Homo sapiens: one gene and its partners. The protein of the gene in region 6 purifies or fractionates together with the protein of the main gene of each other region. This does not show direct contact. Each region holds a gene or a part of one and is shown on either strand. Other genes may lie near its edges. The genes, in order: HDHD5, ZNF330, FAM162A, PAWR, MKS1, SSH3 and PAAF1.

Region 1 (2,629 bases), on a different chromosome or scaffold from region 6:
TCAGGTGGGACATTCAAATGTTATGAGGACATGGGAAAGTTTTTTCTTTTTCTTCTTGTTGTTTTGTAGAGACGGGCTCTCACTATGTTGCCCAGGCTGGTCTCAAACTCCTGAGCTCAAGCAATCCTACCACCTTGGCCTCCCAAAGTGCTGGAATTACAGACACAAGCCACCGCACGCAGCCATGGGATGGTTTTTTTAAAAATTAATTTTAGTGTGGGATAGTTTTTGATTGCACAGGATTGTCCTGAGTATGTAGCGTCCCTGGCCCCCTCCCACAACCTTCACTTGCTAGGTTCTAGTCATTGTGACAACTAAAATTGCCTCTGATTTGTAAAGCACCTCAGCAGGGGCGGTGCTGCCCCATGGAGAATCACTGGTCTGGTGCAGTTCACCGGCCCTGTACCTTAGTGTCAGCAGTGTTCTTTGCCTAGTGCTTACTGTGTGTCTAGTCCTGGGCTGTTTACCGATGATGTAGCTCATTTTTATCCTCACAATAGCTAAGTGCTGTTGCTGTTATGTAGTTGCAGTTGAGGAAACTGAGGCTTAGAGAAGAGAAGTTACTTGGCCACAGTCATACAGGAGAATCGGTGGAGTCCAGGTTGGGTTTCAAGTCTCTATCACTCCACACCCCCTGTCCTGGCTGTTAGGTTCTGCCAGTCCCTGGGGCTCAGAGAGAAGCGACTGAGGGAACAGGAGCCCTTGCTAAGTCATGTGAGGGAGAATGTGGTGGCAGAGTCCCAGCCAGCAAGGAGAAGTAGCCCTGAGACATGCTGCTTTTGTTTTGTAACCTCTTCTGTGAAGCACTGGTGGACTGAAGTCAGAATGGGAGCCCTCAGGAATCTCCTTCCTGGGCCCTGGGCCTTGTGCACCCAGGGTGGATGGGTAAGGGGCTCTACTGGGCTTGTTGGGGAGCTGTGCCCCTGCCCAGCTGGGTGCACCATGGGTGGAGGGCTTGTGGATGGGTAGCCCTAGCTGGCATCCTGAGGGCCTGCCGCCTGCCATCTGCCCTGCAGCCCTCACCTGCGCCTCTGTTCTTTAAAGGGGTGCTCCTCCTAGGGGAGCCGGTCCGCTGGGAGACCAGCCTGCAGCTGATCATGGATGTCCTCCTCAGCAATGGGAGCCCTGGGGCTGGCCTGGCAACACCCCCCTACCCCCACCTCCCCGTCCTAGCCAGCAACATGGATCTCCTGTGGATGGCTGAAGCCAAGATGCCCAGGTGAGGACACAAAGCTCCCAGCCTTGGCCTGGTGGTCTATTCCTGGCTGCTGCCTGGGCAGTCCTGCAGGCAGTTCCCATCCGTCCTGACACCCCAGGTGCCGGGACCTCACTTAGGTAGGCCCTGTTGTTGCTGCAGTAACCTGGCCTTTGGAAGGGCTTTCAAGGACCACTCCACATATTAGTTACTAAACCTAAACTACAGATTATGGAGTCTGAGGATGTATTGAGAGGATGTTTCACACGTGACCCCTGCCCCCTGTAATCTTTACAGAACATGCTCTTGGTGTCTGGTGGATCCCAAACCGTGGGCACTTTTTGTACCGTATCTGTGCACATTATTCAGTTGCTCTTCCTTCCTTGGCTCCATCCTGTAGCATTGGTTCTTTGACTTTCTGGTTTCCTTTTACCCTTCAGACATAAGGCAGGAGGAAGCAAGGATTTGTCGTTTTTTGTTTGTTTTGTTTTTTTTGCGGGGACAGTGTCTCACTCTCTCATCCAGGCTGGAGTGCAGTGGTGCAGTCATAGCTCACTGCAGCCTTGAACTCCTGGCCTCAAGTGACCCCCGTGCCTCAGCCTCCAAAAGTGCCGGGATTACAGGCGTGCTCCATCATGCCGGCCAAGGATTGTTCTGATAGTCGTATAGACCAGAGAACTGAGACCCAGCAGATAAGTGGCTTTCTCAGGGGCATGCAGGTGCCTATACTCCCTGCTCAGCTGTGTTGGTGTCATGTGTCCTGTCTTATTCTGGGGCTAGCACAGATAGAGGCAGCCCTTTTTTGGCCTCAGGGTGCTTACTTGAAGGCCAGCTGACAGCTGCTGTGTACTGTTCGGTTGCTGTTATCTGCATGGCCAGTCTCTTGAGTCTCAGCCTGCTGTTGACCCCCAGTCGACAGTGCTCGTCAGCAGAGGGTGGGCACGGCCCAGTACTGCCTCAGGGCCCGTCTCAGTAGTCCCAGAGAGACGGGGTATGGTATGCTCTTGTCACTTTTAAAGTGTATGTCTGTGGCTCGAGGCTTGGCATTGTCTCTGAAGTATTATTCCTAGAGGCGGGTATGCTGACACTAGATCAGTGGGCTTGGTTGGTTATGTCTCTGTGAACTGAAAAGCAAGGGGCAGATTTCAATTTACAAACCAGATTTTAGATGAACTTTTCTAATTAAAAGTAGAATTATTTACATAAATGACACTGAAAGATGTGGTGGCTCATGCTTGTAATCCCAACACTTCGGGAGGCCGAGGTGGGTGGATCACCTGAGGTCAGTTCAAGATCAGCCTGGCCAACATGGCAAAACCCCGTCTCTACTAAAAATATAAAAATTAGCCGGGCATGGTGGCAGGTGCCTGTAATCCCAGCTACTCGGAGGCTGAGGCAGGAGAATCACTTGAACCCAGGGGGTGGAGGTTGCAG
Region 2 (3,500 bases), on a different chromosome or scaffold from region 6:
ACCAAACACCGCATGTTCTCACTCATAGGTGGGAACTGAACAATGAGAACACATGGACACAGGAAGGGGAACATCACACACCACAAACCGGGGACTGTTGTGGGGTGGGGGGATGGGGGAGGGATAGCATTAGGAGATATACCTAATGCTAAATGACGAGTTAATGGGTGCACCACACCAACATGGCACATGTATACATATGTAACAAACCTGCATGTTGTGCACATGTACCCTAAAACTTAAAGTATAATAATAATAATAAAATTTAAAAAAAAAAAGGTACCACTGAGAAATGAAATTCTGTTTAGATCAGCATGAAAAGTTTCCATGCCTTGTATGTTCCCTAATAAGAAAGAAAGAAGCAGCTAGAAACAAGTGGGTACTAAGGGAAAATCATACAAAAAGCATGCCACTCATAATCCAGATAACTACAGATTGATTGAAACAAGGGACAAAGCAATGATATTTAGAAAAAAATAACCACTGATCAGAATGACATTTTCTTATCCTTGAAAACGTACTAGTCTAAGAGATAATAAGAAGCTTACCACCATTGCAAGGCCAGTACTGTATACACCAGCATGCTTTATGACACAGTCTGAAGACTTCATCATGCACTTTGTTTTCCCTAATGAAGAAAAACATTTGCACTGTTAGTCTTGCAAAGGAATACATACCAGTACTCACGAATTCCTCCTTTTATCCAGCCCAAGTTCCTGAGGAAATAATTTAAAAACTAATGAAATTGAATCAGTATTTACTGCTTACATAACTAGAAAGAGAAAATGGATATAACTGAGACTTCATTACTCGAATCAGACTTTTCAGATTATACATTTACTAATAAATCTGTAAAATGAACTATACAATATATATGCTAATTTGTACTAAATCAGAAATTGCAGGTTATGCTTTGTAATCTAATGATCATTTTAACAGTTTAAAAACTTATCAATCTTCAGATTATTCAAAACAATTTTTAAAGGAATGCTTTTTATAACAAATTTTACATTTTATAATTCACAATAAAAACTGTGGTTTGAAGTTATTTCTTTCCACAGAATAATACCTCAAACCAAACCAAATAATGATTATGTAACTTATCGAGTTAATGTAATTTTATCCAAACATAAAAATTTACAACGAAGCCCCCAGTTAAACATTTTCCCAACAAAATTTTGAAATAGTGCCCAAATAAGCACAATAAACAATACGGTGATACAGCTACAAATCACCACACAGCCACTAAACCTCTGATCTAGAAGCAAATTAAATTACCAACTCAAAACACTATCAGGAAATTTGCTTATCAGATATTATGTGAGAGTTAATGATGACATTAATCATCCATCTGAGACTCCACAAAATGGAACACAAAAGAAACAATTTTCCGTTATCTTGATTTCCTAAGGAACAAAGTTAGTAGGAAATGGGAAGAGAAACTGGAAATGAGAGGCAGCAGCTACCCAACTGTTCCATGTCCAACACTAAGAATCAGTAAATGAGAAATGTATCCATCTAACAACACTACAAAATTTAAGCCCAGAGACACTGAAAATAGGGGTAAGTCCTAGCAAGAACTTACCTATTAATCTTCCACAAACTCTGTTTCCTCACTCTACATTCATTACTTTTTGCAAAACAAGGCTATGAAAACTACCATATGAGTGTTCCATATAGGCCAGTTTTCTCTTTTTCATTAATTGTGGAATTGAAAAGATCTTCTTTGAAAGCTAGAACTACATTAGAAATATTCAGGGATATAGCCCTAAACACTACTAACTTTCTGGAATATTATTACATATAAACACACTTAAATGAGCATACCCCAAATTGTTCTACCTGAAATTATTATTATTATCTCATAAATAAAAGCAATACTTGTTCATCAAAAGTTGGGGGGGGATGTAAATCTAGAGTAATAAAGTTAATTGGGTTTCTTTGTTGCAAGTCTTCAGAACTTCTAACATATAAATATATAATAGAAATCTCCCAGATGAGAATGAAAGGAGGATGCATGCAGTATTTCTCAAATGTATATCGATATATATTTTTCAAGAAATATCCATTAATATTTCAGGAAGTCTGTGGAAGACTATTTGGGAAACACCCATCTTGCTAACATTTAGTTTTATTTTGTATAATCATTTTGGGGTACAAGTCTCCACCTATACTTAAGAACCGGGCACATGACTTAAGAACTCTATTTAAATCACCTGGGAATACATGTGAGGAAACTCATGAATCATATGGTAAGCATCAAACACAAAAACTACTGATCACAAAATAAGTACCAGGTAAATGTGGAATAAAATTATTCCCAATGGTCTAACACACTGCAGGTAATATCAGCAGGAATCAAAATGTAGATAAGTAAACAAACAGATACTGACAAGACTAAGGTAGTATAACTAAAAGTTCAGGATCACCAAATGTTATGTCTGAAATCTGATCTTTCACTGTTTAAAAACACTTATTGGTAACCTGTATCTAAATTGTACCTTAATTATTTTCCAGCATTACATCAAAGAGACAAAACCAAGGCTTGATAGTTTTTTGGTAGGCAAAATAACATGTTTTGTTATTTTGTTAATGGTAAGGCATAATATTATCAACAATTGTAAGCACTGTAACCAATAGCAACAAACCCACCCAAGTTCAAATTGTTGAACTACCAGTTGATAAAAAGCATATGTCCTTAATTATTACAAACTTACCACACTGTGCACAAATTGGTAACTTCTGTACAGAATTACAAAAGTAGCAAAATGCTCTATTCTTCTGCCGCCTTGTCATGTAAAATAAAATTTTAAATTATGGTCAATGTCAGATAAAAAGTCAGAGGGACAATTTTATTAAAGGTAGATAGAAAAAGAAATAAAATTTACCTCTGACACTTGTCACATTCCTGTAACATATAAAAATATCACATTAATTTTTCTGCTGACTGAAAACTGCAAATTTACTTGTATTACAAAGAATAACCTGCTTTTCAGGTTAAAATTTAAGTGACACTACACCAAAGCCCCAACTCCACCCATGTATACAAGCACCTACCCATGCTTAAAATAACAAAGGTATGCGAGAGTGATACTCCGGGTATATGATTCCCTGAAGAAGTGGCATTATCACAAAGGAGGCTAAATACATTGGTAGTTTCTTTTTCAATTGTTTGTAAGGAATAAAATACCACAGAATGAACACAAGAACTATCCTTTTGATAGTTAAGTACATTCTAAGCCTTATGAAACGTTAAGCACATATTATTCCAAATGAAGTGGGTGACCCTTAAAATAATGCATTTATCTAAGGCACCGTTCCAAAGAGAATACAAAATAATAAAGTTCACAGAAAATCCAGATTCCTAAACATGGTTTTAAAAGCTCTCCACAATCTGGCCCCTAATCACTTTCCAAACCTTCTTGGCCTATTCTTTTTAGACTCAAGTCACTAATGGTCAGCCATTCTCCAAATATGTCTTATATTCTCTCTTCTCCATG
Region 3 (3,500 bases), on a different chromosome or scaffold from region 6:
GTGATTAAGTGAGCTTAACAGTGCCTGTTACATAATAAGCACTCAATAAATGGGAGGAATTTTCCTATTACCTGAATTGGGTCTAGGTTCACACTGTGGCTCGTCATTAAGGAGATATGTGGCCTTGGGCAAGTTACTAAAGCTTTCTAAGCTATAGTTTTCCTCATCTATAAATCAGGTCCTAATAATACTTATCTTACAGTGTTTTTGTGAGGTTCAGATGAGATACCAGCTAGAAAAGTACCTGGAATGCAGTGAGTGTTCAATTAGTGATAGCTATTAATTATAATCTGTGCTAAAGATTTCTGGACTTGTATTCCTATGTACTGCTTAGGAGCTGTGGTCCTTAGACACATGGCCCTGTCTGGCTGAGCTTCAAATAAAGAACCCCGCTAAGAAAGCTCACCATGCTGAAGGCAGTTATGGTGAGGGTAAATACACTTGGGTACCAAGAGCACTCTGGAAATATGCAGTGGGTGATTAAATATGCCAGTGTCCTATTTCTTAATTTACATTATGACACCTGTCATCAGAAACACTTTTTAAATTTACATTACACAAAATGAATCTAGTCCTTCTTCACCACGCCAAAGTTAGGATTTGCTATCTATCCCCAAGGATGATATTCCAGGCTTGTTCCCAATATGTCTTATTTTTTTGCTTATCTTTTCTCATGTAATGTAGAAAGTAGCCTCCTCTTCTCAGAGGGTAAATACAAGGGTCAATCCCTGATTTACTCTAGGTTCTTGGTGGAGAACATACATACTGGATAGAGAAGAAACCCCTTCTCACCTTCTTGCCCTCAATAACCATGAAGATGCATCCTACCACCGTCAGGGCAATCATTAGATAGCTGATCTTCACTCGCATCTTGTTCTTTGCAGCATCAAGCATCTCCAACCTAGTAATACAATGAGATCATGAGAGAAAGTTATTAACTTTTCCCTTTCTGAAGTTGCTCAGGATAAAAGGCTGTGTATAAATTCAAAATGTAGTAGTGTCTATAAATATAAATAGGGAGACCTAGAGATCTCTTTAAAAAGGGCCTAGAGATCTCATAGGACTTTGGGGAGGATGAGGCATTTTTCGTAACTCATTTATGTATAAAATACAGGATAGCACACAATTAAGTACAAAAGAAGAAAACAAAAAGAGAAGTCAAGAACAAAGCCAAAAAAAAAAAATGGGCAAGGCATATTAATCTACACTTGCTATGGTGGACCCCAATTTTGGCTCTCAGGTTTCCAAGCAGCCTATAAATGCTAGAAGTGAAACAGTCATTTCTCCCTGAGGTTCTTAAGAAGACATTATGTGATGTAGTCATCGTCTGAAAACATCTCGACAACAGATACTACAATAAGCTTCATATGTTTCAACACAAAGCACAATTCAGAATGATCAAACATTGGAGAAAGTTAACCAATGTGCTCCATATACCCAGCTTTTTGCTCTCTGTCTTGAACCCAGAATAGATTTGAGAATATCTAAAATAGTAGGAAGATCCTTTAAGCAATGCTCCTCAATATTTATCTTTTTAAACAAATGTTTTGCTAAAATTGAGTGACAGTGAACTTGATATTGTGGTCTTTGGCAAGTGCCAAAGTGCAGCTCTTCTAACCTATCTACTGAATACAGACCCATGTGCCTTAAAAAAAAGTTGATGGTTGGTTCATCATTCTTGTGTGAAACCTAAGAGGCTTAATATAGAAGAGTCTAAAGGCCAATCTACCTTGGTGATTTTGCAAGTAGGCAGTGAGTCATGGTTCTATTTTTAATTTACTTTATTTAAAGAGATGGGGTCTCACCATGTTGCTGACTCAAAATCTTAGACTGAAGCGATCCTCCTGCCTCAGCCTCCTGAGCAGCCGGGGCTATAGGCATGCATTGCCACACCTGGTGGTCACGATTCTGTTACCTCGGTGTCTGGCAGAACCTCAAGGCAGGGGATGTGGAGCCCTTATGGGGCCCAGGATTAACTTATGGCCTTCTCAGTAGATGTGTAAATAGGAAGTGATTATCTCTAGATGATGGGATTGAAGTGCTTTCTTTCCCCTGAGATATTTAACATATATTACTTTTAAAATTGGGGAGGGGAGTACTTTAAAAATGCTTGGAAGGAGGCAAAGAGTCTGGGATGTTGCAGGTGGAAGGAGGAAGATGATGAAGCCATGTACAATGTGATGTAGGAGCTGGGACCTGTGAGGCAGCATGTGGACGGGGTTCTCCAGGCACTTAAGCTGGGCCTGCAGGCTGGCAGGAACCCAAGACAACTGCTAAGGACTGTCAAATTGGTCAGTTAGGAGCACCTGAGATTCCACTAACCACAAACTGACTTCCCATGTTGACGGTATTTTATGGGATTTGAAGTGCCATGATCCTCATGAAAAGTAATCCATTCCATAGGGAGTAATAGGAATGGGCAAGTTAAGCAGTGCCTGTTCAGAACTACCAGCACAAGGACAAATGGCTGCCCAGGCCCAGAAAAGACCCTTCCAGAGTGATTCGTGAGGTAGTATTTTGGGCCTGAGGGGATCTTGGAACCAACTATTAGGCAGACTGAGGAAGGTGTTCTATAGCAAAGCCTATACAGCATCTGTTAAGGCCATGGGTGTCTACCAGCTTATTTTCTGCTGGTATAGGAAGAATTAGGGCATAGGCAAGAACCTGATGTCACTGTTATTTCCAGTATTCTCTTATTTCCCAGAAGAATACATGACTTGAGCTAAGAAAAACCAGGGCTTTCCTGCTGAAATAATTCTAGTTAAAGTAATGTGCTATCAATTTGACTGGCAGAAGCAGAAAAGCTCTATTAAAGCTGTTGTAAACAGAAAGTAAATACTACATATTTCCCTGGGAAAGAAATCCTGAATGAGCTCAGATCTTTTTCAATCATGACTTGAAACCAGAGACCAGAAGATCCAGGAATAGTTTCTTGCTGACAGGGAACTTCCACGAGCTTTGTCTGAAGTCCCTGTCCCTGAATAGGATGATGCCTCACAGAGGAGATGACATCTATTTCTCAGAATCTCTTTTTAGCCAAGATGCCAGCCAGTCAGGGTCTTTAACATGAGGCTAGGGCACTGGTTCTCAACCAGGGGAGATTCCCACCCCGCTCGTGCCCCTTGGACATTTGGCAGTGTCTGGAGACATTTCTGGTTGTCAGCACTGCCGCAATGCTACGGGCATGTAGGGGGCAGAAGCCGGGGATGCTGCCAAACATCTTCCAACAAATAGGACACCCCCCTGCCACAAAGCATTATCAAGCCCCAAATATCAATAGTACTGAGTTGAGAAACTGGGTTGGAGGAACCTGCACTCATCATCTACAAACTCTGAAAAAGTTCCATGATCCCAGCCAAGATCCCTTCCCTTAGGTTTAAGGAAGTTGGTGACAGGAAGCACTCTTTCCTGAATTCCAGAATATTGCAATTAAATACTTTTACACCTAAGGTTGAGTACTTAAGTGGATTTGGGGGAATACAGTCATTGTCAATGGTACT
Region 4 (3,500 bases), on a different chromosome or scaffold from region 6:
AGGAAAGGTTTATTCATTCTTTATCATTCATTCAATAAGTAAACTACGTCTACCTTAAACAAGGCATTCTGCAGAAGGTAACAAAGGATGCATTAAAGAAATGGAATTTATAATCTAGTAGGAAAGATAATACATATATATAGATAGATAGATAACTTAGTGATAAAGGCCCAGTTTCTAGCTTTATATTCTATGAGCATATAAAGGAAGAGTATTTTTACCTGGAGAGTTAGAAAAGACTATAAAAAATCTTGTAATTTAAAGAATGGCTACAATTTGGAATTGCAGATATATAAAAAAAGAGAATTACACATGTAACAGCATATTGGAAAAGCTTACAAGAGAAGGCTGCTAAAAAACAGAAGCAACACTAGAAATTATCTAACTCTACACTTTCTACATAAGAAAAACAAAATAGAAACAAATCTCTATCCATTATACACATCATGGGCTGGGTTATCCGTTCCTTGCAACTGAATACATTCCTAACCAATACACTGCCCTAAAGGTTTCTGCATGAGAACTCACACCCCCTCCAGACAAAAACAAATAAACAAACAAAAACAAAAACAAAAAAAACCACACACCTCTTTGTAGAGACACTAAGGAACTGATCACAGCAAAGTATAACAGTATGGCAGTGAAGACAATAGGAATTGGACAAAAAAAAAAAGTTGTGCAGAGAGAAGAAAACACTGAAGCCATTGTGCAAACCAAGAAGGTGCACTGGAATATTTGGAGATAGGAGGAACATACTGAAAGGGGTACCAAGCTTGATAAAGACAAGGTCTACAATGGAGGACATGGAAGAAAGCATCTGTCTGAGATGGAGTGTTTTTTATTATTTTTTATTATTATTATACTTTAAGTTGTAGGGTACATGTGCACAATGTGCAGGTTTGTTACACATGTATACATGTGCCATGTTGGTGTGCTGCACCCGTTAACTCGTCATTTACATTAGGTGTATCTCCTAACGCTATCCCTCCCCTCTCCCCCAACCCCACGACAGGTCCCAGAGTGTGATGTTCCTCACCCTGTGTCCAAGTGTTCTCATTGTTCAATTCCCACCTACGAGTGAGAATATGCAGTGATTGGTTTTCTGTCCTTGTGATAGTTTGCTCAGAATGATGGTTTCTAGCTGAGATGGAGTCTTACAACATTAGGATGATACAGAGAAGTCTGAGGACAGAAATGGAAAGGGCAAATGAAAGGAGCATGCAGGTTGAGATTTGGTGTCACCTGGCCCTTGTCATATCAACCTGCCAAGAGTGGGGCTTGGGGAAACAGCACAAGAAAATTATGATACTGTAGCTACTGTTATTGCTGAGTCTAAACTGTTCTTGACTCTAACTAACCCAGGAGACTAGTATCTTTTGCCAGCATACACAAGCTAACGTGTTAGCCAGCAAGTGGGGTATGATCTCAAAGCCATTACAGTTTTTGACAAAAGTGAGGACTCGAAAGGCATAGAGGGAACATAAATAATAGATAACCCAAGAAGTTTAGACTTCTCACTCCATAGCTTGGAATGATGTTACAATGCTATACAGTTCCTTGGGATAAGGAATGATCAAAATTCTTTTTGGGAAGAACCTGGAAATAGCAATGCAGAGAACAGGAACAAGACCAAAAGTGAAAAGACTAGTTAAGTGACTAGTTAAATGACATAGGCAATTGTATCCTATGAAAAATGATATATCATAGGTGGAAACAGAGTCAGTGAAAGAAATCTGGTATGGGACACCAAAGTGTTAAGAAATTAGTCCTTATTAGAAAAAAAAAATCTCTCTCAGGACTTTCAAAAACTTTCTCAAATCACTAGACAATATCTTGTTTAATGACAACATACCAGCAAAATTTAAAGTAAAATCAGACTCAAGACATTGATGTCCACTATTAACATAATTGTTAACATCATTCTGAAAGTGCTAGTTGATAGAACTAGGTAAGAAGAATAGGCGATTTTAACATTAGAAAGGAGGCAAAATTACCATCAGAGGAAATGATTTTGTAAAAAACAAAAACATTTTAGAATTATGAGTTAAGATTTTTTTCAGTAAATAAGCAAAAAATTTCCCAAAGTAACATCAATAGCCAGTTACAAAATTTTTAGTAACAACCATTAAAAAACTAAAAAACAGTACGTGCATGAAAAAAGCTATAAGACTTTACTGAAGAATACAAATTAAAACCTGCTCTTAAGAAAAATCTAGTATTGTGAAGGTGTCAACAGTCTCTTAACACATAAATTAAAATTCCAATCAAAATCATGAAGAAATTTATTTGGAAAGTAGTGGTGCATCATCTGGAAGAAAAAATACATAAGATATCAAAAAAATTACTTTTTTAAAAAAGAGGTATGACCAAACACTCTAGTTAATGTTAAAATGTATAAAACTACAATAACAAAAATACCTGATAGAGGTCCTAGAACAGAAAGAATAAAATAGCATAAAAGGCATTTTAAATCAAGGAGTTGCTTTAAAAGGGGGAGGAGAGGTCAATCATTTAATGAACAGTAGGAGAAGCAAAAGTATGAGATCTGGAAAAGAATAAAGAATGGTCTCATCTCTAGTCTTCTACTGTGTGAAAGCAATCATCACTTATTCTCCAGCATATGGACTCAAAAATCCCTCACCTAGGCTCCAACATCATTAGCTTAAAGTTGGAATTCTTAAATTATCATAGATTAATATTAACAGAAAGCAAAAGTTGAGGCAGGTAGCCACGCACTCCCAGAGCACTGGGATGCTATTTTATTTGTCTTTGTTTTCATTTTCTGAGACCCAGCCCCACAACACTAACTTTCCCTCCTCCTGCCCCCTCAACTAGACTCCCTTACCAGTATATTAAAAGAAAAAAGAAAGGAAGAAACAAAACACTCGGTAAATGTTTCATAAAACAATGAATGAGTTACCAAGATGAGACAAATCATCTTGGAGATGAACTGGAAGGTGAACTGTGATACCTGAAGTTAAAATTCTGAATGCTCTTTCCCATGGCAACACTGCTATCCACTGAACTGGGAACCTATTCATCACACATAGTATCCCTGTGGATACAGTATGTATCTAACGTTCCAGGCAGCTTTTAGTATAGGATTACTTGATGAATCACAACTTCTCTCCAAAATTCTGCTAGCAACCAGTGCAGTTCTTTTGATAACAAGCATCCTAGAAATTCTTAAGCAATCTTTTCTAACTGGGATAAATACATCTGGAGGAAGAAGTTGGCGGAAATCATGAGAAATAAGAGAATTCCTGTATCTGCCATACTTAAGAGAAGTGGATTCTCCTCATTCCTTTCTTCAGCTGCATAATAATTTTATTAAATAGATGTACCTACCATATTTTAATCAGAGCTTTATTGATGAACATTTGGGTTTTTTACACGCTCTAAGAAAAATGTGTTAGAAAGGCTTATATATATAGTTTCTGTATATATGCAATGGATTTCCTGGATAGATTCTTAGTATTAGGATTGCTGGCTCACAAGGT
Region 5 (2,158 bases), on a different chromosome or scaffold from region 6:
CAGGATCCTTCAAGGTGACTTTTGTCTTTGGAGTGACTTCACGCTGAGAACTTATGGTCCTGTCCTTCTGTAGGAGGTGGGATCTGGGTCAAGACCCCTTAGTTGTGCATTGCTTCAGTATTAACCCCTTCCTTCCTGTGGCTTAAGCTGGAAGTCATGACCACATTTTGAATCAGGTTCCAATATCTACACTGCTATCGTAGGAGGTCTCTGGAAAATAGTATAATTAGAGATTTCCCCTGGTTCCCATCAGAATAACTGGCTCTTTCCCCCATCACTGAAGGCCTCAGTAATCAGATGTGGGGAGGATTCACAGTAAGCATATAAGACCGCCGCTTCTCAAATGAGGTTGGAATGTTCCCTGGTTTAGTTGGGGGAGCCCAATAGCCCAGTATTAGCCTTGAGGTAATAGAGTCTGGGTGATGGAATAAGGTTTCCCCAACAGAACTGCGCTTCCCAAGAATGGGAATAAGAATGGGGGTGAGGCCAGCATGGTGCGGGGGTGTCTAGAGAGAGCAGAAACCTGAGGCTGTCCCAATGGCATGCCACAGGGGGAACGCCTGAGCCGCTTTGGACTCCGCACAGAGACCACAGGCACTGTCACCTTCCGCTTGCACTGTCTGCAGCAGTCCAGGTGAGTGACTTGGCCCTCTGCCTCAGGGCACCTTAGCCCTGAGGGGTGGAGACAGCCGTAACCATGTGGCTGGCCTCCCTGCAGGGCCTTCATGGAATCGAGCTCCCTTCAGAAAAGGATGCGGAGTGTGTTGGACCGTCTGGAAGGGTTCAGCCAGCAGAGTTCCATTCACAATGTGCTAGGTATGTCCCCTCCCCCAGCTGGCCACCCCAGGTCAGCATGGGCCTGTTTCTCTCTGCAGTGCAGAGAGAAATACCATATGGCAGCCAAATAGCATATCTCCTTTCCTTACAGAGGCCTTCCGTCGAGCCCGGCGCCGCATGCAGGAGGCCCGGGAAAGCCTCCCGCAGGACCTAGTGAGCCCCTCTGGAACCCTGGTCTCCTAGCTCACAGCAGCCCTGGCCCACAGTGCAAGAGGACAAGATGGGGGATATCTGAGGCCAGTGCTCTCCTGCCTCTTCGTCTTTCTGATTAGAGACCACGTTGGTCTGCTGAGAACCAGAAAAGCTGGGAAATTCCCGGCTGGCCCCTCTGCCTAGCCTTCTGCAGGGTCTTCTCCCTACCCTGTGGAAATAAAGCCAGAGACCCTGTGGCCCCCCCTTTATATTTGCAGCCACTGTCAATGGGCATCACAGCAAGGCAGGCTTTTTGATCTGAAGCTGTTTGGGGTGACCCCATAGTGAGTCTGGCCTTGACTCACTTTTCTGGCTTGTCTCACAGTAGCAGGGGATCTGCTGTTCTCCACCCTTTAAAAATGGAGCCTTTCATCTTCCAAGACCAAAGAAGGAAGGAAGGTGGACGGTGAGAGGGTCTTAAATCCCCAGCCTGTGAGTCTCAGCCTCTTTCCAGGGAAGCCTCATTCTACTGCTTGGGGCTTGCTGAGGTTGAGATATGAGTTATTTCTGAGTAAGTGAAGGCTGAAGGCAGTGCTGAGTCCTTTCTGCTAGCTGGGTGGTATCTTTTACTGTGTTTTTTTGTTTGTTTGTTTTTTTGTTTTTTGTTACATAAACCCCTTTTATTTTGACTGATGTTCTGTTGGCTGTTTGTCTGCTCAGGTTGCTGGTATGGCTAGGGTGTTCTTAATGTCGGGGCCCCTACCATGTCTGCCCTTCCCCTTTTCTGCCTTTCCCTACTCCACAGTGTTTCTTTGGGCTCTCCTAATTCAGCCCCCAGGAGAGGCTTAGATGGTTGTGCCAGCTTGCGTGTTAACAGCACTTCTCTTAAACATCTGGAGCAAAGCATGGAACTGAGGCCACGTCTTCCCTAGCCCAACACAGAAACAGCAGCCCCTGCCCTTAGCAGTGCTTTATTGGTAGAAGCAGAGCATGCTGCCTGGCCTCAGGCTCAGAGGAGTATTGTGGGGTGTCTGGAGGCTAGGACCGAGTGGTCTCTTAGTCATGGTGAGGGAGGGGAGGGAGGGCTGGGAAACAGTAGAAAGTGCTGTAAACCCTCCAGCTGACTTTTCTTGCCTGGGGTGCAAGACCACATGGCTTGGCTCCCAAGCCTTTGCACGTGGCGCTGATT
Region 6 (3,281 bases):
GACGCCCATCTTGCAGTGGACCAGCACGTGGGTGCCCTGTGCTCTGTGGAAGCAGGCCAGGTTCAGCACCCTCCCCTCACCATGAAGGATCCCGCCTCCTGCAGGGGAGGGCAGGTGAAGGGCTCACAACCAACTGAGAGTAGAGAAGGAGGGAAGGACACTGAGGGCTGGAAGGAATGGCACAGCTGATGGCAGAGTGGGCAGGAGGAGGGCACCGGAGGCCGCTTGAAGCCACAGTGGGGCAGGCAGCAAAGCCAGGAGACCGACCTTGCAGCCTCAATGAAGCGGTGCGTCTCCTTCCAGTGCGGCAGCAGCTGGGCCGACTCCTCATCCCAGAGGCGCACATTGTGGTAGGTGAAGCGCTCAGGGTAGAAGTTGTCAATCTCCCGGGCCATGTTCAAGATGTGGGTGACCCTGTCCCAGAGGGCCCAAGGCCAGGCTGATGTGGGCAGAGGTACCAGGCCCACTGGCAATCGGACCTGGCAGCCCCTGGGCCTCGCTTTAGCTCTGAGTTTCAAGTCAGATGGAGGCAGCAGTGACAGTGGGAGGAGAAGTGACCCAGCTGTCACCTGGCTGCGACCTTAGACCAATCATCTTGCCCTGCTGGGCTTGTTTCCCCATCTGGTCCAGACAGCTGGGCCAACTGCAACTCCAGCCCTTCAGTTATTCTCAGAAATGAGTTAGAGAACAGCTTTTGAGCTAAGCTGAGAGTGGGTGGGTCTGCAGCAGTGGGTGGCAGGGGCTACAGCAGGTCCCAGAAGCCCATGGTGGGCAGATGACAGGTACCTGTCAGAGCAGGCAGCCAGGTCCCCACGGGGAGAAGGGCAGTTCCTTCTTCCCTGAGACAGGGCAAGGTGGAGAAAAGGCTTTTTCTCTCTTTCTTTTTTCTTATTTTTTAGAGACAGGGTCTCTCTCTGTTGCCCAGGCTGGAGTGCAGTGGCGTGATCACGGCTCACTGCGGCCTCAATCTCCAGGGCTCAAGCGATCCTCCTGCCTCAGCCTCCCAAGTAGCTGGGCCCACAGGCGCATTCAAGAGGAGCCTTTTTCTGCTTGTCCAAGGCAGTTACAGCAGTATGCGCTGCTGCTTCTCGTCTTGGCGTGGCTGAGGCCCTTTGTTTCTGTCCTTGTTTCACAGTGTGGATGGGGGAGGAGAGTGGGCGGGGGCTGGCCAGCAGGTCTCCTGTCCCCACCTGGGAGCCCACACCAGGGCAACAGCCCCAGGACAGAGTTAGAAGCAGAGCTAGCAGCTGCTGAGGGTGGTCCAGGGGTTTTTGAAGCTGGCTACCACCCAATGCGGGGAGGCCAGGAGAAGGGAAGATGGGGTGGGTGGCCCGAGGGGCTCATAGCCCTACCTGTTCCTCTGCAGCTCCTCCAGGTTTGCTGCGTTCCACTCTGAGCCCTGGGAGAGAGGGAACAGCACATTTCTCCTCTCCTCCAGCCTCTGCTCCTGGCCTGCCGCCCTCACAGCTGCCAGCGGTCCCCATGGCCCAGGCCTGGCTGAAGCTCACCAGGTAGAGGTGGGGGAAGATGCGGGAGGCTCGGTCCCGCTGTGCCACCAGCAGCAGCATCTGGTTGTCGATGAAGTCACGGTACTGCTGGAGGGGGAGCCCCAGGCGCAGCTCCAGAGCCTGGCGGATCTGCAGGCAGAGCCCAGGGCAAGAGAGGCTGGGGCTCTCCTAGTGCCCAACCTGCCACCTTCCCTCTGGGACCTCTGAGGACAGCACCCTATCCCATCTAGATGGATTAGGGCCAAGGCCAAGGCATCCAGGAATGGCTCAGGACTGGAGACAGGCAAGGTGGGGAGGGCTCCCAGGAAAGGCAAGCTTGCAGCCCCTGCTAGAGGGGACTCAGTCCCCGGGCCCCCTGCCCACCTCTTTGGAAGTGACACTCTCCAGGTCACTGACATCCAACACTTTCCACAGCTCAGCACGGATCGCCTGCTCCATCTGCTCCTGTTCTGAGGACCTGGGAGCAGAGCCCCTCAGTCAAGGGGCCCTTTCCCCTCTCCACCATGCCCCCCACTGCATTATCCTGCCTTCCCCTCCACCCAGTCCCTCCCCTCCACACACTGACCCGCCAGGCTCGGCGCTGGGAGGCCGCAGAGACTCCAGGTCGGCCATAGCCGTCCACTCATTGAGGCAGCTCTGTTCGGAGTTCAGTCTCTCCTGGTAGTGGCTGGCCCAGGTGAGGGCACTGCCACCCGGTACAAGGCCGCTGCCTAGAGCTGCCTCACATGCTTGGTGCAATACCTGGAGTGTGGCCCTGAGACAGGAGGAGAGGCTGGGTCACACTGTTCCCTTGCTGCCCTTCCCCAGGCCCTGCAGCCTCCTTCGAAGGAGAGGCTGGCCTGAGTCCAGGCAGTCTCTGTCCTTACCACATGGTCTGGATGGAGATGGGCTTGAAGATCCGGCTTTGCCCACCAGACGTCACGCTGAAGCCCCTGCAGGAGACCAGGCACAGGTGAGGCCAGACTCCAGGCTCTGCGACAGAGAACCCATCCTTTTGCTGGATACGGGAAGCCGAGACCCAGGAGTCAGGTGCCTTGCTCAGGATCACGGTGAATCTGACGTGGAGCTGGGAGCAGGCCCCAGAGTCCCAGCCTAAAGTTCTACTGTACCCTGGTGCCCAGGCCCCGTCACATCCGTCACACTCAGTTATTCCACCCTCCAGCCCCCACCTCCAGTTGCCATTGCTTACCCGTCTCCATCTAAGTACACCTGGGTGTCACTCCAGAGGGGCAAGACCAGGCCCAGGGTGCAGCTGGGGGAGCTGGCAGGGGACAGAGGGAAAGCCATTGTCCCCCCTGTCCCTCACCTCTTTGCCCCTCCTTTCCTCTCCCTGCTCGAACCTGCTGTCAGGGAAATCCACGCCCAGGAGGACCGTCTCATCCTGGCTCAGACCTTCTCCTTCTCGTGTAGAAACTACCAGCAGGTAGCGGAGCCGGGGAGGCCGGGGTGCCTCCAGCTGGGCTGCCTGGGGGGAGATGAGGAACCCAGGGTCACAGTGGCCCCAAGGACCCTGCTCCCCACCTAGACACCCCAGGCCCAGAACAGTGCTGACCCTGCTCCTTCCTCTCCCATCCCCCCTCTTCCCAGATGTAAAATCAGTGGGTAAAGAGGGACTGTGTGGAAAAAAGCGGGGAATGGGACTGACATAGGTTGCACATTTTTTGTTTCTGCTGAGGAAGGAGGTTGTTTTTGTTTTTGTTTTGAGATAGGGTCTCACTCTGTCGCCCAGGCTGGAGTACAGTGGCACCATCACAGCTCACTGTAGCCCCGAAC
Region 7 (3,500 bases), 6.6 Mb from region 6:
ATGTGAGGAGCGTCTCTGCCCGGCCGCCCCGTCTGAGAAGTGAGGAGACCCTCTGCCTGGCAACCGCCCCGTCTGAGAAGTGAGGAGCCCCTCCGCCCAGCAGCCACCCCGTCTGAGAAGTGAGGAGCCCCTCCGCCCAGCAGCCACCCCGTCTGGGAAGTGAGGAGCGTCTCCGCCTGGCAGCCACCTCGTCCGGGAGGGAAGTGGGGGGGTCAGCCCCCCACACGGCCAGCCGCCCCGTCCGGGAGGGAGGTGGGGGGGGTCAGCCCCCCGCCCGGCCAGCCGCCCCGTCCGGGAGGGAGGTGGGGGGGTCAGCCCCCCGCACGGCCAGCCGCCCCGTCCGGGAGGTGAGGGGCGCCTCTGCCCGGCCGCCCCTACTGGGAAGTGAGGAGCCACTCTGCCCGGCCAGCCGCCCCGTCTGGGAGGTGAGGGGCGCCTCTGCCCGGCCGCCCCTACTGGGAAGTGAGGAGCCCCTCTGCCCGGCCAGCCGCCCCGTCCAGGAGGGAGGTGGGGGGGTCAGCCCCCCCGCCCGGCCAGCCGCCCCGTCGGGGAGGGAGGTCTGGGGGGTCAGCCCCCCCGTCCGGCCAGCCGCCCCGTCCGGGAGGTGAGGGGCGCCTCTGCCTGGCCGCGCCTACTGGGAAGTGAGGAGCCCCTCTGCCCGGCCACCACCCCGTCTGGGAGGTGTACCCAACAGCTCATTGAGAACGGGCCATGAGGACAATGGCGGTTTTGTAGAATAGAAAGGGGGGAAAGGTGGGGAAAAGATTGAGAATCGGATGGTTGCCGTGTCTGTGTAGAAAGAGGTAGACATGGGAGACTTTTCATTTTGTTCCGTACTAAGAAAAATTCTTCTGCCTTGGGATCCTGTTGATCGGTGACCTTACCCCCAACCCTGTGCTCTCTGAAACATGTGCTGTATCCACTCAGGGTTGAATGGATTAAGGGCGGTGCAAGATGTGCTTTGTTAAACAGATGCTTGAAGGCAGCATGCTCCTTAAGAGTCATCACCACTCCCTAATCTCAAGTACCCAGGGACACAAACACTGCGGAAGGCCGCAGGGTCCTCTGCCTAGGAAAACCAGAGACCTTTGTTCACTTGTTTATCTGCTGACCTTCTCTCCACTATTGTCCTGTGACCCTGCCAAATCCCCCTCTGCGAGAAACACCCAAGAATGATCAATAAAAAAAAAAATAAATAAAAAAGAAAAAAAGAAAAAAAGAAACATCGTAAAAAAAAAAAAAAAGAGTTCAGATATTTCCACATATACCTATATATAGGTATAGCTATAGAAAATATACAGATATAGATCTTTCAGAATAAAGAATAGAGAAATTTCAGATTCACTTTTTGTTTTCCAAACTCACTTTTATAGTTTTTGTGTTTTTTTTAAAGACAGGGTCTCACTCTGTTGCTCAGGCTGAAGTGCAGGGGCATGATTACAACTCACTACAGCCTTAGCCTCTCAGGAACAAGTGATCCTCCTGCCTGAGCTTCCCAATAGCTGAGATTACAAACATGGGCTGGCATGTCCAGCTAATTTTTTAACTTTTTTTTGGAGAGATGGGGTCCCCCTATGTTGCCCAGGGTGGTCTTGAACTCCTGGGCTCAAGCTATCCTTCTGCCTTGGCCTCCCAAAGTGCTAGGATCACAGGCGTGAGCCACCGCGCCCAGCCTCACTTTTGTAATTTCAGTATCAGCAATCACTTCATGCATAAGCCATTATCAGAATAACAAATCTTTTATACACATGCATACATGTACACTTTTATTAAAAAACAACCAGCTGCAAATGCTCCAGAAATGATGGACCAAGATATGCAATTCCAGACACATTCCCAGCAACAATAATTCCCACATAAGTTATTAAGAAAAAAGTAGGGACTTTGGCTTTAATTATCCAACTTTCCATTTTACTTTGTTCTATGTCAATTAAACCATAATAAATAAGTTTGGGAAGAACTATAGGGATATATCCATCAACTCTAACATTTTCTAAGACTTTTCTTCTTCATTTTGCTTCCTCGGAATAAAAGGACTGCTAACTTAGTAGTGGATCCTTTACTTGTAAGCAACATACTTCAGGTTCTGTCCTGATACAGGTGGTATCTATCCAATTGCTTGCTGGTAGGCAGTGAACACCTAGGCTAGACTGGAAACCTCAAACTGAACATGTCCAAAGAAAACTTTTATTTCCCCTGCCCCATCCCAATACAACTCCTCCTCCTCCAATTAGTAAATGGAACACAATTCACCTACTTCTCAGGCCAAAATTTTTTGAATCATCCCAACTCCTCCTTTTCTCTCATACTTAACATCCAAGTCATCAGCAAATCACGTCTAGTCCCACATCTCTAGCATGTAAGATCTATAAGGGCAGTTTTATTTATTTTATTCAGTATCCAGAAGACTGGCTGAAATATAGTAGGTGATTAATAAATGGATGAATCATCTTTCAGTAAGCTCAAATAAAAAGAGAATAAGAAATAGAAAAGGAGCACAGTTATGTTTGTTTTTGAGACATGGTCTCACTCTGTCACCCAGCCTGGAATGCAATGGCACAATCACAGCTCACTGCAGCCCTGACCTCCTAGGCTCAAGCAATCCTTCCATCCCAGCCTCTCGAGCAGCTGGGACTACAGGCACACACTACCACATCCAGCTAATTTTATTTTTTGAGACAGAGTCTTGCTCAGTAACACAGGCTGGAGTGCAGTGGCGCAACCTCGGCTCACTGCAACCTCTGCCTCCTGGGTTCAAGCGATTCTTGTGCCTTAGCCTCCGGAGTAGCTGGGATTACAGGCGTGTGCCACCATGCCCAGCTGATTTTTTTTTTATTTTTATTTTTTTTAGTAGATTTTTTTTTATTATTATACTTTAAGTTTTAGGGTACACGTGCACAATGTGCAGGTTAGTTACATATGTATACATGTGCCATGCTGGTGTGCTGCACCCATTAACTCGTCATTTAACATTAGGTACATCTCCTAATGCTATCCCTTCCCTCCGATTTTTATATTTTTAGTAGAGATGGGGTTTCATTATGTTGGCCAGGCTGGTCTTGAATTCCTGGCCTCAATTGATCTGCCCACCCCAGCCTCCCAAAGTGATGGGATTACAGGTGTGAGCCACTACAACCAGCCTATTTTGTTTATTTTTTTGTAGAGACAAGGTCTCACTATGTTGCCTAGGCTGGTCTCAAACTCCTGGGCTCAAGTGATCCTCCTGCCTTGGACTCCCAGAGTGCTGGGTACAGGCATGGGCCACTGTGCCTAGCCTGTAAATGATTTTTAAAATGACTTACTTCTCAAAAGGTGAGCGGCATTCCCAACTCTCCCAAGAGGTGAATTGCCTTCTCCCTCAGTTAAAGCAGAAAATAATAAAAAATGATGTATAAAGGCCAGGCACAGTGGCTTATACCTATAATCCCAGCATTTTGGGAAGCCAAGGAGAGAGGACTGCTTGAAGTCAGGAGTTTGAGACCAGCCTGGGCAACAGAGCA

The links.
Region 1: the proteins of SSH3 (region 6) and HDHD5 purify together in Homo sapiens (affinity purification with mass spectrometry, with the first as the bait; one large-scale study listed by BioGRID). This does not show direct contact.
Region 2: the proteins of SSH3 (region 6) and ZNF330 purify together in Homo sapiens (affinity purification with mass spectrometry; one large-scale study listed by BioGRID and IntAct). This does not show direct contact.
Region 3: the proteins of SSH3 (region 6) and FAM162A purify together in Homo sapiens (affinity purification with mass spectrometry; one large-scale study listed by BioGRID and IntAct). This does not show direct contact.
Region 4: the proteins of SSH3 (region 6) and PAWR fractionate together in Homo sapiens (co-fractionation; one large-scale study listed by BioGRID). This does not show direct contact.
Region 5: the proteins of SSH3 (region 6) and MKS1 purify together in Homo sapiens (affinity purification with mass spectrometry; 2 studies listed by BioGRID and IntAct, with this or other methods). This does not show direct contact.
Region 7: the proteins of SSH3 (region 6) and PAAF1 fractionate together in Homo sapiens (co-fractionation; one large-scale study listed by BioGRID). This does not show direct contact.

The regions. Positions count from the first base shown.
Region 1 is NC_000022.11:17,139,649-17,142,277, reverse strand, and holds part of HDHD5 (haloacid dehalogenase-like hydrolase domain-containing 5 isoform 2 precursor), read left to right. Parts: intron 1-69; coding exon of another isoform or gene 70-209; exon of another isoform or gene 210-881; coding exon of another isoform or gene 882-885; intron 886-1,044; coding exon 1,045-1,219; intron 1,220-2,629.
Region 2 is NC_000004.12:141,223,895-141,227,394, reverse strand, and holds part of ZNF330 (zinc finger protein 330), read right to left. Parts: intron 2,909-3,500; coding exon 2,889-2,908; intron 2,789-2,888; coding exon 2,718-2,788; intron 629-2,717; coding exon 549-628; intron 1-548.
Region 3 is NC_000003.12:122,404,682-122,408,181, reverse strand, and holds part of FAM162A (protein FAM162A), read right to left. Parts: intron 902-3,500; coding exon 793-901; intron 1-792. UniProt on the Homo sapiens protein: Proposed to be involved in regulation of apoptosis; the exact mechanism may differ between cell types/tissues.
Region 4 is NC_000012.12:79,621,465-79,624,964, forward strand, and holds part of PAWR (PRKC apoptosis WT1 regulator protein), read right to left. Parts: intron 1-3,500. UniProt on the Homo sapiens protein: Pro-apoptotic protein capable of selectively inducing apoptosis in cancer cells, sensitizing the cells to diverse apoptotic stimuli and causing regression of tumors in animal models.
Region 5 is NC_000017.11:58,204,941-58,207,098, reverse strand, and holds the end of MKS1 (tectonic-like complex member MKS1), read left to right. Parts: coding exon 1-14; intron 15-551; coding exon 552-634; intron 635-718; coding exon 719-816; intron 817-928; coding exon 929-1,020; coding exon of another isoform or gene 1,021-1,109; 3' UTR 1,110-1,658; downstream 1,659-2,158. UniProt on the Homo sapiens protein: Component of the tectonic-like complex, a complex localized at the transition zone of primary cilia and acting as a barrier that prevents diffusion of transmembrane proteins between the cilia and plasma membranes.
Region 6 is NC_000011.10:67,306,530-67,309,810, reverse strand, and holds part of SSH3 (protein phosphatase Slingshot homolog 3), read right to left. Parts: intron 2,974-3,281; coding exon 2,849-2,973; intron 2,770-2,848; coding exon 2,698-2,769; intron 2,441-2,697; coding exon 2,375-2,440; intron 2,263-2,374; coding exon 2,074-2,262; intron 1,966-2,073; coding exon 1,872-1,965; intron 1,638-1,871; coding exon 1,509-1,637; intron 1,400-1,508; coding exon 1,353-1,399; intron 415-1,352; coding exon 268-414; intron 44-267; coding exon 1-43. UniProt on the Homo sapiens protein: Protein phosphatase which may play a role in the regulation of actin filament dynamics. Can dephosphorylate and activate the actin binding/depolymerizing factor cofilin, which subsequently binds to actin filaments and stimulates their disassembly.
Region 7 is NC_000011.10:73,893,999-73,897,498, reverse strand, and holds part of PAAF1 (proteasomal ATPase-associated factor 1), read right to left. Parts: intron 1-3,500. UniProt on the Homo sapiens protein: Inhibits proteasome 26S assembly and proteolytic activity by impairing the association of the 19S regulatory complex with the 20S core.